Linked DNA regions of Homo sapiens: region 2 is linked to region 1. The links come from fine-mapping of genetic effects on plasma protein levels. Region 1 holds a variant in brackets. A gene starts in the other region. All regions are shown on their forward strands. Region 1 overlaps SMIM14 (small integral membrane protein 14). Region 2 holds the start of PRSS53 (serine protease 53).

Evidence for each region. PIP is the chance, under the fine-mapping model, that this variant and not a neighbour inherited with it causes the effect. The UK Biobank Pharma Proteomics Project read protein levels with antibody pairs (Olink). The fine-mapping took linkage between variants from a reference panel, not from the people measured, so its PIPs are less certain.
Region 2: it holds the start of PRSS53, and the variant in region 1 is fine-mapped to the plasma level of the PRSS53 protein (UK Biobank, PIP 0.92).

The regions. Positions count from the first base shown.
Region 1 is chr4:39,563,162-39,572,120 of GRCh38, forward strand. All of the region lies in intron 3 of SMIM14 (small integral membrane protein 14), which reads right to left. All of the region lies in intron 2 of UGDH-AS1 (UGDH antisense RNA 1), which reads left to right. Among named protein-coding and RNA genes, the nearest start is that of UGDH-AS1, 40 kb to the left of the region's middle. The variant G/A (reference allele first, on the strand shown) is at 4,368.
Region 2 is chr16:31,083,457-31,092,415 of GRCh38, forward strand. PRSS53 (serine protease 53) reads right to left here and starts at 5,487. Exons shown (of 11, transcript NM_001039503.3): 1 at 5,296-5,487; 2 at 4,350-4,370; 3 at 4,081-4,243; 4 at 3,177-3,442; 5 at 2,881-3,035; 6 at 2,508-2,727; 7 at 1,654-1,804; 8 at 1,324-1,568; 9 at 1,102-1,247; 10 at 663-879; 11 at 1-353. The coding sequence starts at 5,353. The coding sequence ends at 334. VKORC1 (vitamin K epoxide reductase complex subunit 1) reads right to left here. Exons shown (of 3, transcript NM_024006.6): 3 at 7,398-7,886. The coding sequence ends at 7,678. It overlaps ZNF646 (zinc finger protein 646), which reads left to right. Exons shown (of 3, transcript NM_014699.4): 3 at 1-740. RefSeq lists an enhancer at 5,164-5,664.

The DNA.
Region 1 (8,959 bases):
GTGATTCTCATGCCTCAGCCTCCCAAGTAGCTGGGATTACAGGTGCTCGCCTCCACACCCGGCTAATTTTTTGTATTTTTAGTAGAGACTGGGTTTCACCATGTTGACCAGGCTGGTCTCGAACTCCTGATCTCAGGTGATCCACTCACCTCAGCCTCCCAAAGTGATGGGATTACAGGCATGAGCCACCGCCCCCGGCCCCTCTTCTTTCTCTAGCCAAGGATTCCCTGGCCTGGCTATGCATCAGAATAGCCTGTGACAGTATCAACACCACAGATTCTAAGGCACTGCCTAAGACCATCTGATTCAGGAGCAGCTTCGGGGTGGGATCAGGAGCCAACAATATTTTTTAAAAGCTTTCCAAATGAATCTGATGCAACAGTTGAATGCGAACTTGTCTGGCAGCATTTGCCAACTATGCAAATTCAGTCTTCCTGGGGTACTCGTTATTTCCCTGTCTGGCATGTTCTTACAACTAACTCCATTTATTCACCTATAACCTACATCCCTCTTCCATAAAAATCTCCATTTCCTCCACCCACTTTTTCCTCTGCCTTCTCTGGACTAGTATAGCATTTCTAGTTTGAAGGAATGGTTTCCCGTCTCTCCTAATTAACTTTTTAAGAACTGAGACCATCTCATAGCTGTTTGACTGTACCACCTCTTAGGTATATAATCCCTGAGCCTCAAGTTTCTTTTTCTTTTTTCTTTCTCCTCTTCCTCCTCCTCCTCTTCTTCTTCCCCTTCTCTTCCTCTTCTTCTTCTTCTTCTATTATTATTATTTTGAGACGGAGTCTTGCTCTGTCACCAGGCTGGAGTGCAGTGGCACCATCTTGGCTCACTGCAACCTCCGCCTCCCAGTTTCAAGCAATTCCCCTGCCTCACAAATAAAATGCCAAATGGAATATTCACAATGAAGCTGTTAACTTAGCTGGATACCAAGAGGATGAAAAGGTAGAGACAGAGGCTCTAAGAGCTGGCCCATCCTCAGAAGATTATTTGTATAAACTTATATAGGTTTCCGCTGGGGAAAGCAAAAACAGAACAGCAGTGAAAGTGGACAATACACCGGTATGCTCTAACCCTGTAGTTTTTGGTCCTATACAGTAATTACATTATCCTAAGCACAGCTACCAGTTTTCAAGCTGAGTCAAGGGTGATCTCTATCATTCCCTAATGTAGATCTGTTATTCTCCTACAGGCTGAGTATTCCTACTCTAAAAATCTAGAATCCTCCAAAATCCAAAACTTTTTGAGAGCTGACATCATGCTCAAAAGAAATGCTTATCGGAACATTTCACATTTTCAGGTTAGGGATGGTCAACTGGTAAATGAATCTGAAAAAATCTGAAACTGAATACACTTCTGGCTCCAAGCATTTCAAATAAGGGATATTCAACCTATACTTTCATATTGTGTTCTGCGAGGGTGCCCCATAGTGTTATTTCAGATTAGCGTTTTTTAGATAAAGATAACCTGAATGGAAAGCATCCTCTCTTTTGTTTAAAGGATTCTATTAAAAATGAAATACATGACTTTTAAGCAGGGGGCTAAGGGAAGCCTCACTAAGAAGGCACTCTGGAGTGAAAATGTAAAGAAAGTGAGGCTGTCAGTTGTGAGATTATCCGAAAGAAGCACATTTCAGGCACAAGGAACAGCGAGAACTCCTGATTCAGGAGCCTGTGGGATGTTCATGGAGGCCAATGTGGCTGAAGTGAAGTGACCTGGGATTGGTGGTATAGTGAGGTGGGATATAAGAAAAAGATTAAGCTGGGTGTGGTGGCTCACGCCTGTAATCCCAGCACTTTGGGAAGCTGAGGTGGGAGAATCACTTGAGGCCAGGAGTTCAAGACCAGCCTTGGCAACATAATGAGGTCCTATCTCTACAAAATAAAAAACAAACAAAATCAGCCAAGTGTGGTGGCACACACCTGTGGTCCCAGCTAATCAGGAGGCTGAGGTGGGAGGATTGCTTGAGCCCAAGGGGTTGAGGTTGCAGCAAGCCATGATTGCACCACTTTACTCCAGCCTGGGCAACAGAGTAAGACTTTGTCTCCAGAAAAGAAAAGAAAAAGATTAAATCAAAAGAGTAACAGGATTCAGATCATGTTGGCCTTATAGGTCATAATAAGCTTCTATTACATATTAAATAGAAAACCACTGAAGAGGGCTTTTCTTTTTTTTGGACAGGGTCTCACTCTGTCACCCAGGTTGGAGTGCAGTGGCTCAATTACAGTCACTGCAGCCTCAACCTCCCAGGCTCAAGTGATCTCCTAACTCAGCATCCAGAGTAGCTGGGGCATAGGCACAGGCCACCACGCCTAGCTAAGTTTTATATTTTTTGTAGAGACAGGATTTCAACATGTTGCCTATGCTGGTCTTGAACTCCTGAGCCCAAGTGATCTGCCTGCTTTGGCCTCCTAAAATGGGATTACAAGTGTGATCCACTGTGCCCAGACACCACTGAAGAGTTCTGAGCAAAATGCAGATGATATCTGACTCTCATTTTGACAGAACCACTCCATCTGTTGTGTTTTGAAAAACGAGAAACAGAAACACAGTGATATGGTTTGGCTGTGTCCCATCCCAAATTTCATCTTGAATTGTAACTCCCACAATTCCCATATGTCATGGGAGGAACCTGGTGGGAGGTGATTGAATTATGGGGGGCGGGCCTTTCCTGCGCTCTTCTCATGATAGTAAACAAGTCTCACGAGATCTCATGGTTTTAAAAAGGGGAGTTTCCCTGCACAAGCTCTCTTCTCTTGACTGCCACCATGTAAGACATGCCTTTCACCTTCCGCCATGATTGTGAGGCCTCCCCAGACATGTGGAATTGTAAGTCCAATAAACCCTTTTCTTTCGTAAATTGCCCTGTCTTGGGTATGTCTTAAATTAGCAGTGTGAAGACTGACTAATACAGACAGTTAAGAACCTGTTGCAATAATCTATTAACATACGAGATGATGATGGCCTAGAACAGGGAGGAGGCAGTGGGATAGTGAGAAGTGGTAGAATTTTGGATGTATCTTCAAGATAGTGCTTGCTGATAGATGACTGGACAGTGTGAGAAAAAGGGAAGCCAAGGATGAGTCTCAGAAGGATAGAACTGCCATTAACTGTTATAGGAAGGATCTCAAGAGAAGCAGAAATTCTGAAGATGTTGAATTTGAGGTGCCTTGTTAGACATCCCAGTGGAAATGCCCAAAAGACAGTCATCAGCATACAAGTAATGAGTCATGAGACCAGATGAGATCACCAAGTGAGTGAATGTCTAGAAAAGGAAATAATCCAGGGGCTAAGTCCTGGAGCATTCCAAGGATAAAAGTTAAGAGGTCTGGAGGACAGACAGACGCACCGAGAAAGAAGACAGCAGATAGCCGCAATGCAGCCAGGCACAATGGCTCATGCCTGTAATCCCAGCACTTTGGGAGGCTGAGGTGGGTGGATCACCTGAGGTCAGGAGTTCAAGACCAGCCTCGGCAACATACAGAAACCCTGTCTCTACTAAAAATACAAAAATTAGGCCAGGCGTGGTGGCTCACGCCTATAATCCCAGCACTTTGGGAGGCCATGGCAGGCGGATCATGAGGTCAAGAGATCGAGACCATTTTGGCCAACATGGTGAAACCCTGTCTCTACTAAAAGTACAAAAATTAGCCAGGCGTGGTGGCGTGCACCTGTAGTCCCAGCTACTCGGGAGGCTGAGGCAGGAGAATCGCTTGAACCTGCGAGGTGGAGGTTGCAGTGAGCTGAGATTGTACCACTACACTCCAGCCTGGTGACAGTGTGAGACTCCATCTCAAAAAAAACAAAAAACAAAAATTAGCTGGGGATGCTGGTACACGCTTGTAATCCCAGCTACTTGGGAGGCTGAGGCAGGAGAACTGCTTGAGTCCAGGAGGTGGAGGTTGTAGTAAGCCGAGATTGCGCCATTGCACTCCAGCCTGGGCGACAGAGCAAAACTCCATCTCAAAAAAAGAAAAAAAAAAAAAAAAAAAAAAAAAAGGAAGCCGCAATGTGACAATAGGAAAAAAATGTGACATGGGAAATATGGAGAAGATTTAGTTATTAAAGGCTGAAACTAGATAATTTCTCAGATTACAACTTTATCAGGAAGAAGCAGAAGGCTAAGAATTGTATGCTAAGTACTCAAAATGGGCCAGGTGTGGCAGCTCATGCCTGTAATCCCTGCACTTTGGGAGGCCAAGGCAGGTGGACTGCTTGAGCTCAGGAGTTCGAGACCAGCCTGGGCAACATGCAAAACCCTGTCTCTACAAAAAATACAAAAATTAGGCCGGGCATGGTGGCTCACACCTGTAATCCCAGCACTTTGGGAGGTTGAGGTGGGCGGATCACGAGGTCAG[G/A]AGTTCGAGACCAGCCTGGCCAACATGGCGAAACCCCATCTCTACTAAAAATACAAAAATTAGCCGGGTGTGGTGGCAGGCGCCTATAATCCCAGCTACTCAGGAGGCTGAGGCAGGAGAATCGCTTGAACCTGGGAGGTGGAGGTTGCAGTGAGCTGAGATCATGCCATTGCACTCCAGCTTGGGCAACAAGAGCAAGACTCCGTCTCAAAAGAAAGGAAAAAAAAAATTAGCTGGGCATGGTTGTATGCTCCTGTAGTCCCAGCTACTCAGGAGGCTGAAGTGGGAGGATTACTGAGCCTGGAAGGTCAAGATTCAGTGAGCCCTGTTTGCTCCACTGCACTCAAGCCTGGGTGACAAAGTGAGACCCTGTCTCAAAACAAAACAAAAAACAAACAAAAACACCCCAAACCATATTCAGTGCCAAATGTTAAAGCCCAAATAGATTGTATAAATAAGAACATACAGGCCGGGCGCGGTAGCTCACGCCTGTAATCCCAGCACTTTGGGAGGCGGAGGTGGGTGGATCACTTGAGGTCAGGAGTTTGAGATCAGCCTGGCCAACATGGCGAAACCCTATCTCTACTAAAAATACAAAAAATTAGCCAGGTGTGGTAGTGCATTCCTGTAATCCTGGCTACTTGGGAGGCTGAGGCAGGAGAATAGCTTGAGCCTGGGAGGCGGAAGTTGCAGTGAGCCAAGATTGTGCCACTACACTCCAGCCTGGGCAACAGAGCAAGACTCCTTCTCAAAAAAAAAAAAAAGAACATATACATGTATATATTTCTCCACCATTTACTCTTTGGTCTGTGTTTTAACAACATTGACTCTACCTAGCAGCTGCTTCTATGACTAAATGAATAAATGATATTTCTGATATCACAATGATTAAACACTGTTCTAAAACAATGGAATAACACCTATGAAAAGGGGAAGAGTAAAAAAATAAGACAATGGAATATATACAAAATACAACTACAGAAATAAAAGGCAGAAATGAACGAAAGCAACCAATTTAAAAAAGTCAGAAGAGAATAAAACGTATTTCTTCAAGGCTTATTTCAATTCTTAAGAAGCCTCAAATTCCCACGATCCTAAAACATATATTTAATTTTAAAAAATAACTTTTTCCAATTGAATAGTAGCACAATACTATCCAATTGAATAGTAGTATCTAAATATAAAGATAGCTACAAAATATGTTTTATTATTTTAAGAAAAAAGTATAAGCTCACTGGAGAAAATTTAGAATATAAGAAAAATAATTCTATCCCTCACAGTAAACTACTGTTTAACCATTTAAAAGCCTAGCTCTCAGAAAGGATTTTTACCAACTGCTAAAAGAACTGGGGGGAAAGAAAAACTTGCCAATATGCCTAAATGAATGTTCAAAGTTTCACCTTTCTTTTTAGAGTTAGGAAGTGACATTTTACCCACAGGAATGACTATATTTGGTTATAGGCGGGGCTGGTTAAAGAGTCACAAAAGCCGCACATGTAATAAACACGTGTTTTCCCATGGGGAGGTTCAATAAAATTATTTTCAACTAGGAAAACAGGTTTTAGCTTTACCTGTTGAGGCAAATATTTGAGCTGTACATTGTAGATTAATGAATGCTACTGGAGAAGTAAAGAAGTCTGGAGGGAGGGAACCACCACCCATTGTCCTAACAATGCACATTTCTATTGCTTTCTTGTCTTGAAGGCATATATATCACCCAAATGGACTAGGTTCCCACAAAATTTCTACTTTAGGCTAGGCACTGCACTAGCTCCCACTTCTCTAAGCTGTTATATCTGTGGAATTTGATGGGACACCCAGTACACAAAGTAATAAAAATCATAATGTATAACAAGTCTCTTTACAATTACCTTACTGCGTCTTGTTTCAGTTTCATATATATAATAAACAGGCAGCTCTGCTTCAGAGATGTTACGTATCAGCAACTAACCTACTAATAAATGCAATTTGGCAATATGTAAATAGCCTTAAAATGTGTGAAGAAAACCAGAACGTATCACTCCAAAATATGCCTTTTTGACATAGAAATTATTTTGGAGAAGCCAGGCACGGTGGCTCATGCCTGTAATCCCAGCTACTTGGGAGGTTGAGGCACTAGAATTGCCTGAACCTGGGTGGCGGAGGTTGCAGTGAGTTGAGACTGAGCCACTGCACTCCAGCCTGGGCGACAAAGCGAGACTCTGTCTCAAAAAAAAAAGAAAAAAAGAAAAAAAGAAATTATTTTTGAGCTGTAGGCAATTAGGAAGTAGCAAACAGAAGAAAAGCTCCCTCTATTCCCCTCTTTTCTGCCTAAAGGTAGGATACAAATTCTCCTTTATACACAACCCTACAGACTTAATAGTCCAGAGACAGCACCAGAGGAGTCTATAAACAAACCTTACTCCATTAGTTTCCTCCCAAATATTTACTTTCCCAGTTTCCTATCCTTGGAAGCCTAAAATCTCTTTCCTATGTTCTGCCCTTTTTCCACAAATGTATTGTTCTTTGTTGAAGATGCTACATAAGCCAGAGTTCTGAGCCACTGCTTTGAGTTACTTTGCATTGAGCTTTCTCCCATGTGATGCCACACACATTAATAAATTTGCTTTTTCCTTGTTCATCTATCTTTTTTTTGTTTTTTTTTCTTTGTTTTAGAGAGTCTCGCCCTGTCACCCAGGCTGGAGTGCAGTGGTGTGATCGCAGCTTACTGCAACCTCTGCCTCCTGGGTTCAAGTGATTCTGGTGCCTCAGCCTCCAGAGCAGCTGGGACTACAGGCACGTGCCACCACGCCCAGCTAATTTTTGTATTTTTAGTAGAGACAGGGTTTCCATGTTGGCCAGGCTGGTCTCAAACTCCTGGCCTCAACTGATCTGGCCACCTCAGCCTCCCAAAATTCTAGGATTACAGGCGTGAGCCACCGTGCCCGGCAATCTATCCTTTGTTACAGGGTGTCTCAGCAAAGAACTCTGAGGTTGAAGAAAAAATTATTTGTCCTCCCCAACATATGCACACAAAGAATGTTTATTCAAGTGTTGTTTATAATAGCAAAAAATATATCAGCAACCTAAGGTTCTAGTAAAAGGAAATCATTTAAACGCTGGTGCTTCCCCACAATGAATTATTATTTAATTAATAATTTTTTTTTGAGATGGGATCTCACTTTGTCATCCAGGCTGGAGTGCAGTGGCATGAACATAGCTCACTGCAGCCTCAAACTCCTGGGCTCAAGTGATCCTTCTGCCTCAGCCTCCCAAGTAGCCGGGACTCCAGGAGCATGACACCATGCCTGGCTCAATAAATAGTAAGACAAATATATGTTGATATTTTATAAGTAGTGAAAAATAACATATACAATGTGATCCCATTTCTGTAAGTTTATATGAAATCTAATTATGCCAGGCTTCACCATCTTGTGAATGTCATACTTTCCTTCTTGCAGTCTTCTGATACAAGACTGGATTGGTTTAAATACTATTTTACTAGTTCCCCTTAAAGCATCTCTCAAAATATTTCTGAGTATCCTGAAAAAAGATGTGTCACATAATGGTCACTAAGTCTGTCACCTACATATACCATGCAATATTCATCTTCCTACTGATTCTCACTTTACCATCACTACTGCCCATAAAGCCATGTGGAGAAACTTCTCCACTGCCAAATTCTCTGATGCGCATGTTAATGTCAGAGCCAAAGGAATGAACTCCACAGGCACCCAAAGTTTCCACACATGGAAAAGAATGGCCTCCCCACCAAGAAGTTCTCAAGTGGCTGGGCATGGTGACTCACGCCTGTAATCCAAGCACTTTGAGAGGCCGAGGCAGAAGGATCACTTGATCCCAGGAGTTTAAGACCCATGTGGGCAACATGGGAAGACCGTGACTCTACAAAAAATTCTAAAAAATTAGCCATGCATGGTGGTGCATCCCTGTAGTCCCACCTACTAGGGAGGCTGAGGTGGGAGGATCACTTGAGCCTGGGAGGTCAAGGCTGCAGTGAGCCATGATCGCACAATTGCGCTCAGTGTGGGCGACAAAGCAAGACACTGTTTCTTAAAAAAAAATTTTTTTAAATTAAAGAAAAAAAAAGAATTCTCAAGCCTGCCAACAGATGCAAATAGATGTTAGGGAGAGAGTGAATGGTTTGCGCAAGCAGCTTTGATGTCCCAGTTACACCTGCCCACAGTGCCCTGTTACAGACTTATTTGCCAAGAAAAAAAGACTAGGATATACCCGAATTTGTCAACAGTGGTTATCTTTAACTATTCTGGAAGTTCTTCTATTTTTTTTTTTTGAGACAGGGTCTCACTCCAGTCACCCAGGTTGGAGTGCAGTGGTGCGATCACAGCTCACTGCAGCCTCAACCTCCCCAGGCTCAGGTGATCCTCCCACCTCAGCCTCAGGAGTAGCTGGGGCTGCAGGCATGCACCACCATGCCCCACTAATTTTTGTATTTTTTGTAGAGACAGGGTTTCCCCGTGTTGCCCAGGGTAATCTCAAACTCCTGGACTCAAACGATCCACCGGCCTCAGCTTCCCAAAGTGCAAGGATTCCAGGTGTGAGCCACTGCACCCAGCCTTTTTTTTTCCTTATAC
Region 2 (8,959 bases), not on the chromosome of region 1:
TTAAGTTTAAAAAAAGGAAAACTGCTGCCCCCCAAAAAAAGAAATTTTCAAAACAACGTGGCTGGCGTGATTGTATCTGAAAGGGTAAAGGAGGAGGAAAGCTGAGACGCCTGCTTGGTAGCAGAGTTGGGTGTGGGAGTGTCCACAGACACCCCTGTCCTGCAGGGTGGGGAGTGGGCACCTGTGGCCCCAGGCAGGTTCCTTCCCACAGCTGCTGGGCTTCTGGGCCTGCCCTGGTGCCTGGAATCACACATGACAGGGTGGGGAGGACAGGGGCAGTAATGCCATTTGCCTGCCTGCATTCTCTTGTCCTGAGAATGGCCAGGTCCCCTGTCAGCAGCTGGTTGGTTGGCCTGTGGGGAAGGAAGGAGGGTGGAGTTGTCCTCATCCTCACGGCTTTGGTCCCTCCCTCCCTCCCCATTCCTCGAAGGAACAGGGTCTGTCTTGGCCGCCATGACAGATGAGAATACTGAGGCTCAAAGCGGTTGAGCAGCCTGCTCCAAGTCACACGATGACAAAGAACCAGAATCTGAATCAAATGGGTCTGCCTGTTGCTCCACCCTACCCAAGGCAGCTGGAGTGGGTTAGAACGGCACGTTCTCACTGGAGAGAGAAGGGTCCTGGAGAGGCAGGGTTTGGCAGGAGGCCCCGGGGCCACATACTTATGTTGGCCAGGCAGCTTCCAGGCTCAGCCTCGGGCTCTGGTTCCTCGGCGAAGTAGACCTGCCAGTCCAAACTGCTGACCCAGTCCTCATAGGCAGGGAGCGCGGTGAAGACCGCCGGCCTGGCGGGGCCTTGGCAAGCATCTCCGAAGCTGTGCAGCCCGGCCAGGAACCATGTGCCCCTCACCTCATGCACCAGTGGTGCCCCAGACAGGCCCTGTCAGGGGTCAGGTGACACTGGGTGACTTTTTATAGGCAGCTGTGCAGGACGGTAGAGCAGGCTAGGGAACCTCTGGCTGTTTGGGGGCTAATTGGCAAAAAGGCTTAGTTTCAGGTGGGAGGTGGGTCCAGAGGCCAAGCCTGGAAGGTCCGTTCTTGAGCTATTGGGTGAGGGGATGCCAGGGGCCTGTTAGGTAAGGTGTGGGGGCCTGGGGCTCACCTCACAGCTGGGCAGCTCACCCACAGCACTGGTACACACCATCCCCGGCAGAATAGGGCTGCCATCACCCCCAGGAGCTGCATGCAGCCGGCTGCAGGCCCTAGGCCCCAGGAGGGTCACGGGCACTGTCTGGAGGGAGCTGATGCCTGTGGAGCAAGGGAAAGCTGGCTGCCCCGGCCTGCAGGTTGGATGGACAGCAGCCCTGGCCCTGTGCCCACCTACCTGCTCCTGGGCGGGCCCGTCCCAGAACCCAGCCACGCTCCCCATCAGGCAGGTGGTGGTCAGGATAGGGCAGGCAGAGGGGCCGCAGGCTGGCTCCCAGTGTCACAGGCTGGGCCAGCAGCAGGAGGGCCATGTCGTAGCCCCCCTCAGGGTGGGTGTAGGCTCCATGCAGGATGAGCTGCTTCAGGCCCCACTCCTCCGGTCTGGTCCCCAGCCCTACGCTCCATTCCTCTGGGGCCTGGCGCCTGTGCAGAGGCAGTGTGGACGGCACCAGGTGACAGGGCTGCCGGCAGGGGCAGGGGGCACAGCAGAGAGGGATCCAAGACTCACCCAATGAAGCAGTGGGCAGCAGTTAGCACCGCCTCCTCTGACACCAGGGCTCCGCCACAGGCCAGCTGTCCCTGGTGCATCAGCCTGGCCTCCCAGGGCCATGGGGAGGGTGCTCCTGCCTGGGGACCTGCTGTCCTCAAGGATCCACAGGCTGAAACAGATAAGTGCCTCATCTGACTTCTTGCTAAGCACTTCCCACTTCCCATCAAATCCTCACAGTAGCTTTTGAAATTGAATTTTGTTCCCCTCATTACTGAAGGTAACCAAAGTTCCAGAGAGGTTAAGAGACTTCCTTGCTCTGTAACTACAGGCAAGTGGCAGACTTGCGATTCGCAAGCCAGGGCCTGAGCTTTTAGCCCTGTTGGTCTGATGGGACCCCTGTCCCAGCCTCGTGGGAATGCCCCTACTTGTCACTCCCCTGCTCCACCCGTCTGCACCCTCCAGGATGGGCCTGCCTCCCGTATTCCTGACTCATTAGTGCATCTCTTATCATCAAGACATAATATCCGTCCCAGGAATTACTTTGCATTCAATTTGCATGCCAGTCACTTAATGCCGGAATTCTGACTGGGAGCCCTACCCTGTGCAGGCTCGCTGGGTCCCTGCTGGAAGCCTGCCACTTCCCCAGAAACCCAAGTCAGGTCTCAGAGATTCCTCTTCTCACCTAAACTCCAAACCTGTAGAGTTCCAAAGTGCCTGTGCCTCTCAGCCCTAACAGGGCTGTTCCCATCCCAGGGGGTGAAAGAGCCCCCTAATTAGGCTCGGCGGTGTGGATGCCTATGCCAGTTCTCTAGTCCTAACTGAGGTTTGCTTCACAGTGGCTTCTGCCCACTCCCAGCATGCCCCACTCGTACCTACACAGCTGTCCTCATCACTCATCTCCGGGGTCTCTGGGCTCTGGGCCAGGAAAGCTGCCCCCTGAACTCGAGCCTGCAGCCAGGAACTGTGAGCAGCTGTGTTGGTCAGCAGCACAGGAGCGTCCTCCTGGGCACAGCTTGATGCAAAGCTGATGATGCCAGCCTGAACCCAGTGTCCGTCAGGCTCGAGGCACAGCACAGGGCCCCCGGAATCTCCCTGGAGCCAGGCAACAAAGCCAAGGACAGATGCCTGAGCCCAGCTATGGCAGACACCCTCTGATTGCAGGTCTTTCCCCCAGTCCTGTGAGTCCAACCCCCAGCCCAGGGTTAGGCCCCTCCCCTTCTGCTCCTTCTCTTCTCCCTATCAGACCTGACAGGGGCCCTGCACCCCAGGCTGGGGGCCCCCACATAGCATCCCAGGCCGGGCCGGGTTGGACAGGTGTCGCTGGTGCAGCTGGTTGTAGATACAGTTACATGTGGGGCGACTGATGAGACGCAGGCGCAGATTGCGTAGGGTCCCAGGAGCTGGTGAAAGAGACGGGGCTGGGGCTAGAGTCTGGGATCTGGGAAGCAAGGGAGACTGGAAGCCAGGACAGTTGGGAGCTGAGACTGTGACGCTGGGCAAGCAGAGTGCCTCTCCGAGCTTCAGTCTGGGCCAGCACTTACCATCACTGGTGTCCTGATCCCAGCCAGTGGCCCAGCAGGAGGCTCCAAAGGGGAAGCGATGGGCGGGCTGGGGCAGGCAGAGGGGTGTGTGGGTCGTGGGGTGGGCGAGCTGCAGCAGGGCCAGGTCTGAGCCCTGGCTGTAGTGGTTATAGGCCCTGGGCAACTGCAGGGCAGCCACCCCCACCTCTTCGGCCCCAGGGCTGAGTCCCTCACGCTGCAGAGAACCCAGGACCACTGACCAGGAATTCAGTTCTGTTGCTGCTGCCCTGGAAGGGGAAGGACAAGGTCCAGGCTGCTGAGTGCAAGGGTAGACAGTGACACCATGGGAGACCCCACAGGTAGGTGGAAGATAGCAGAGAGCACTCCACGGCTTTTTCTTTTTGAGGTAGGGTCTCGTCCTGTCGCCCAGGCTGCAGTGCAGTGGCATGACCATGACTCACTACAAGCCTTGACCTCCCAGGCTCAAGCGATCCTCCCACCTCAGCCTCGTGAGTAGCTGGGACTACAGGCGTGCACCACCATGCCTGGCTAATTTTACAGTTTTTGTAGAGACATGGTCTTGCTATGTTGCACAGGCTAGTCTTGAACTCTTGGGCTCAAGCGATCCTCCCTCCGTGGCCTCCCAAAGGGCTGGGATTACAAGCGTGAGCTACTGTGCCCGGCCTCAGTCTGTGACTTTAAGCGAGGTCATTCCCTTGCAACCTGAGTTTTCTGATTTGTAAATCTTCTACCATGAAAGGTGGTTGTTACAATTAACTTGACAATATGTACCCAGTACATGGCAGATTCTCAGTAAATGGTTCTTTATTATTACTCTAGAGGCAGGGACTAGCCTTGTGGGGCTTGAGACAAATTGTCCACTCCCCAGAGCCGGAGACCCTGCCTGACCCCAGCCATGACTTACTTTTCAAAGCAGTGGGCAGCAGTGAGGACCCAGGTGTCTGCCACCAGGGAGCCGCTGCAGATGTGGGCTCCTTGCCTCCTCACACTGGCCTGCCAGGGCCACTCGCCAGGGACTGTGTTGCCCTCCTGAGGCTTGGGGGGGCCGGGGCCACGCTGTCCACAGGCTGTGGAAAGGAGTTAGTCACACTGACAGCAGATACCTGTCCTGACCTCACCCCAGTCCCAACCCAGACCCAAGTAAGACCTAGGCCCCGTGTCCCCAGACCTTACCACGCTGAGCGGCTTGAAGACCTGGGAAGAGAGAGACACAGGTAAGATGCAGGGACTCCAGGCCTGCCTAGCTTTGGGGAGGAGAGGGGATGGGCTGGGGGGCGGGCCCAGGGTCCTTGCCTGTGACTCTGATTACCTTACCAGCCCCTCCCAGAATGAAAATATTTATATGAGGCCGAGACAGCTTTTATTGGAACCTATTCAGTGTGCACACTCAGTAATTAATTCTCCTTCAGCTGTGCTCAGCACTCTGGGGCTTGGGGTTCAGCTTGGGAGTAGGCCAGCCCTCCTCCAGGCTTCAGAACCCCCAACTCCTGCCCCCGCCACTGAGTCAGCCAGGCGGCCTGTGTGTGTAGAGAGCATTAGCTTAATTGTCCTCTTAGCAGCAGAGGCCTAAGAGGAAGGATTAGAGGCCTGCATCATTTCCAAGTGGGGAGGGCCCCAAGAAATGGAGACTTACCTCACCCTGGTCTAGAGACTCAGTCTTCCCCACCTTCCCAGAAACTGTCTGAGAGCCCGCCAGAGAGAGGGCCCCTGCCCACCGCCCCTCACAGGCACACAGGCACCCCATGAGACAGCTGAGCCAGGCTGCCCAGAGGATGGATGAAAAGAAAGGGAAACTGAGGCCAGAGGAGCCCAGAGTTTGCCTGACGTCATTGTGGAAGTCGAGGGGGAGGCAGGCACAGGACACACGCAGGCAGCACCTCACACACACACAAGACCACAGGCCCCGCCAACGCAAACTGCAGCTGGCCCGAGAAAATCTCATCCATGTTGACACAGGTGGCCACATATACCACCCCACAGAGTCCTACGGAGTTACATCCCCACTGGTGGACTGTCGCCCACAGGCGGTCCCCCCACCAAGAAGCAGGGACTGCTGGGGCAGAGATGGCCCCTGAGCCCCCACCAGGCCACACCCATACCCCAGCACATGGCGGCTTACCCTCCATGAGGACTGTGGCACCCGCGATGAGCAGCACTGGGCCCCAGCACCACTTCATGCTGCCCCGGGCCACTCTGCCACCTGTGCTCCACTCTGAGAGAGGCCACCTGGGTCTCCCTGGCTCCACCTCTGCTCCACCTCCAGTTGGCTAGGATTCAGCTGTCTGCTTGCCCTAGCCAGCAGTTCCTAGCTCTGGGGCTGTGGCTGTGTGACCCTAGGCTTGTCACCACCCCTCTCTGGGCCTTAGCCGTGGAGCCAAATTGTCTGGGTTTAAATCTGTTTCCTTACTACTTGAGTGGCCTGGGAGAGCTAACCTGCCTGTGCCTTGTCTGAGAAACAGTTGTTGAATGGAAAACGTCTCAATGACAGCCTGGCACAGGGCAAGCTCACTCCCAGCATGAAAGTGCCATCCTGGAACCATGGAGGGCACGTGGGCAGCTCCTCCCAGTCCCCACTTTTCATTTCCACTCCCCCACTTCTCTTCCAGCCAGGGCTAGGTGGGTTTCACATGCCTTCTCCCAGGTCTGCTCAGAGACAGTGTGTGCCAGGCTGAGTGGTGAGGAGCCAGCACCCACTGCTGCTTGCTCGCTGTGAGCCTTTGGCAAATCCCAGTATCTCCCTGGGCCTGCTGGCTTCCTGGGAAACAGGGTGACAGCGGTGCCCACCTTCCTCATAGGCGCAGAGGACTCGGTCAGGCGGGAAGAACACTTTGGCGCGTGCCTCCTCTTCCTCTTCCCACTCCTAACTCAGGCTGGCCCAGACCATTCAAGAACCCTGACCCCAAGACAGAGGCAGCTGTGGGTAAGGTTTAGCATATATTATAGATGCTGGCCGGGCATGGTGGCTCACGCCTGTAATCCCAGCACTTTGGGAGGCCAAAGCAGGCAGATCACCTGAGGTCGGGAGTGCGAGACCAGCCTGACCAACATAGAGAAACACTGTCTCTACTAAAAATACAAAATTAGCCAGGCCTGGTGGCGCATGCCTGTAATCCCAGCTACTCGGGAGGCTGAGGCAGGAGAATCACTTGAACCTGGGAGGTGGAGGTTGTGGTGAGCCGAAATTGTGCCATTGCACTCCAGCCTGGACAACAAGAGCGAAAGTCCGTCTCAAAAACAAACCAACAAAAAAAAAAGCATATAGATGCTGGAGCCAGATGGACCAGGTGGATTCAAATCCTGAGAGCCTCCTGCAGTAGCTGTGTGATCTCAGGCATACTAATTAGCCACTCTGTCCCTATCATCAAGATAGGGATAATAATAGTACCCACCTCATAAATCACTGTAAAGATTAAACGAGTTTAACACGTTAACACAAGTTTTTTTTTGTTTTTTGTTTTTTTTTGGAGACGGTCTTGCTCTGTTGCTCAGGCTGGAGTGCAGTGATCATGGCTCACTGCAGCCTCAACCTTCTGGGCTCAAGCAGTCTTCCCGCCAGCTTCCCGATTAGTTGGGACTATAGGTACATACACCACCATGCCTGGCTAATTTTTTTTTTTTTTTTTTTTTGTAGAGACAGGGGTCTCACTATTTTGCCCAGGCTGGTCTGGAACTCCTGGCCTCAAGTGATCCTCCTGCCTTGGCCTCCCAAAGTACAGGGATTACAGGTGTGAGCCACTGCACCCTGCCAACACAAGTTCTTAAACAGTGCTTGGCATGTAGGTAAGTGGTCAGGGCATAATAGGCAAAACAAAAACCTTCACAACCTGGCCCTGACCCTCCAAGGCTACCAATACTGGCTTGGAATGGTCGATAAGGCAACTGGAGGGGTTAAAGTTAAACTCAAGGAAGAACTTCCCAGCAAGCATTTACAGAACCAGAAGGGCAGCCTGCCCTTCCAGGTGTGTGCTCAGCCTTCCCAGGAGAGGAGGCCTGGCTCCTGTGGGCAGCAGGAGCGAGCTGCCAGCCTGTTTCCTGGGGGTGGGGGCCAATGGTGCCCCAGGCCTTGCTGACTCCACACACTGGAGATGAGACTACCCATAACCACCCTTCCCAGCAGGCCCTCCACTCTCCCTCTGACTCACCCTTCCCAGCTCCAGAGAAGGCAACACCGAGGGAGGCCCAGCACCACAGTCCATGGCAGACACATGGTTCAGACTTGGCTGATTGATCTAAGAAACTTTATTGCTCAGAACCTTCCCTCCCTGGGCAATGGAAAGAGCTTTGGAGACCAGCCCATGGGGACAGAGTCAGAGGCACTGGGTGTAAAAAAGAGCGAGCGTGTGGCACATTTGGTCCATTGTCATGTGCGGGTATGGCAGGAGGAGGGGGTAATCTAGAAGCCCCACATCTAGGGCCTTCTAGGGACCCAGATATGCCCCCTTAGGCAAGGCTCACATGCCAAAGCAAAGCAGATGAGGTCAGCCTGGCTTGGGTTGAGGGCTCAGTGCCTCTTAGCCTTGCCCTGGGGTTCTTGGACCTTCCGGAAACTGAGCCACATCAGGCTCACGTTGATAGCATAGGTGGTGATACAAACAATGCAGAAATCATAGAGCACGAAGAACAGGATCCAGGCCAGGTAGACAGAACCAGCGAGAGACACCAGGGAGCTCAGCAGCATCAGGACAGAGGCCCAGCGTGTCCGCAGGCAACCTGCAAGGCAGAAGAGGGTCCGGTGTGGGCTTCAGGCACTGGCCACCTCCCGAACACTCCATGATGTCACTGCACTACCTAGATGCCAGGAGCTGCTGGGAAGGGTCTCTAAAACAAGAGGCTCCAGGGCAGATGTGGTGGCTTACGCACGTATTCCAAACACTCTGGGAGGCCGAGGTGGGAAGACTGCTTTAGGCTAGGAGTTCAAGACCAGCTTGGGCAACATAGAAAGACCCGATCTCTATCAAAAATTTAGAAATTCAGCTGGGCACGGTGGCTCATGCCTGTAATCCCAGTATTTTGGGAGGCCAATGGGGGTGGATCACCTGAGGTTAGGAGTTCGAGAGCAGCCTGGCCAACATGGCAAAACCCCATCTCTAATAAAAATACAAAAATTAGCCGGGTGTGTTGATGGGCACCTGTAATCCCAGCTGCTGGGGAGGCTAAGGTGGAGAATCGCTTGAACCTAGGAGGTGGAGGTTGCAGTGAGCCGAGATCATGCCACCACATTCCAGCTTGGGCAGCAAGAGCAAGACTTCGTCTCAAAAAAAAAATGCCCGGTGAGGTTGACTCACGCCTGTAATCCTAGCACTTTGGGAGGCCAAGGCGGATGGATCACCAGGTCAAGAGATTGAGACCATCCTAGCCAACATGGTGAAACCCTGTCTCCACTAAAAATACAAAAATTAGCTGGGCGTGGTGACACGCGCCTGTAGTCCCAGCTACTCAGGAGGCTGAGGCAGGAAAATTGCTTGAACCCGGGAGGCAGAGGTTGCAGTGAGCCAAGATCGTGCCACTGCACTCCAGCCTGGTGACAGAGCGAGACTATGTCGCAAAAAAAAAAAAAAAAAAAAAAAAAAAATTAGCTGGGTGCAGTGACATGCCTATAGTCCTAGCTACTCAGGAGGATCGCTTGAGCCAGGTTACAGTGAGCTATGATTGTGCCACTGCACTCCAGCCTGGGCAACAGAGCAAGATTATTTCTTAAAAAAAAAAAAAAAGAAGGCTTCAACAGGTCCCCTCCAAGGGACTGGTCTCTGAAGCTCTTGCCATTGCCCAGGGAGGGAAAGTTC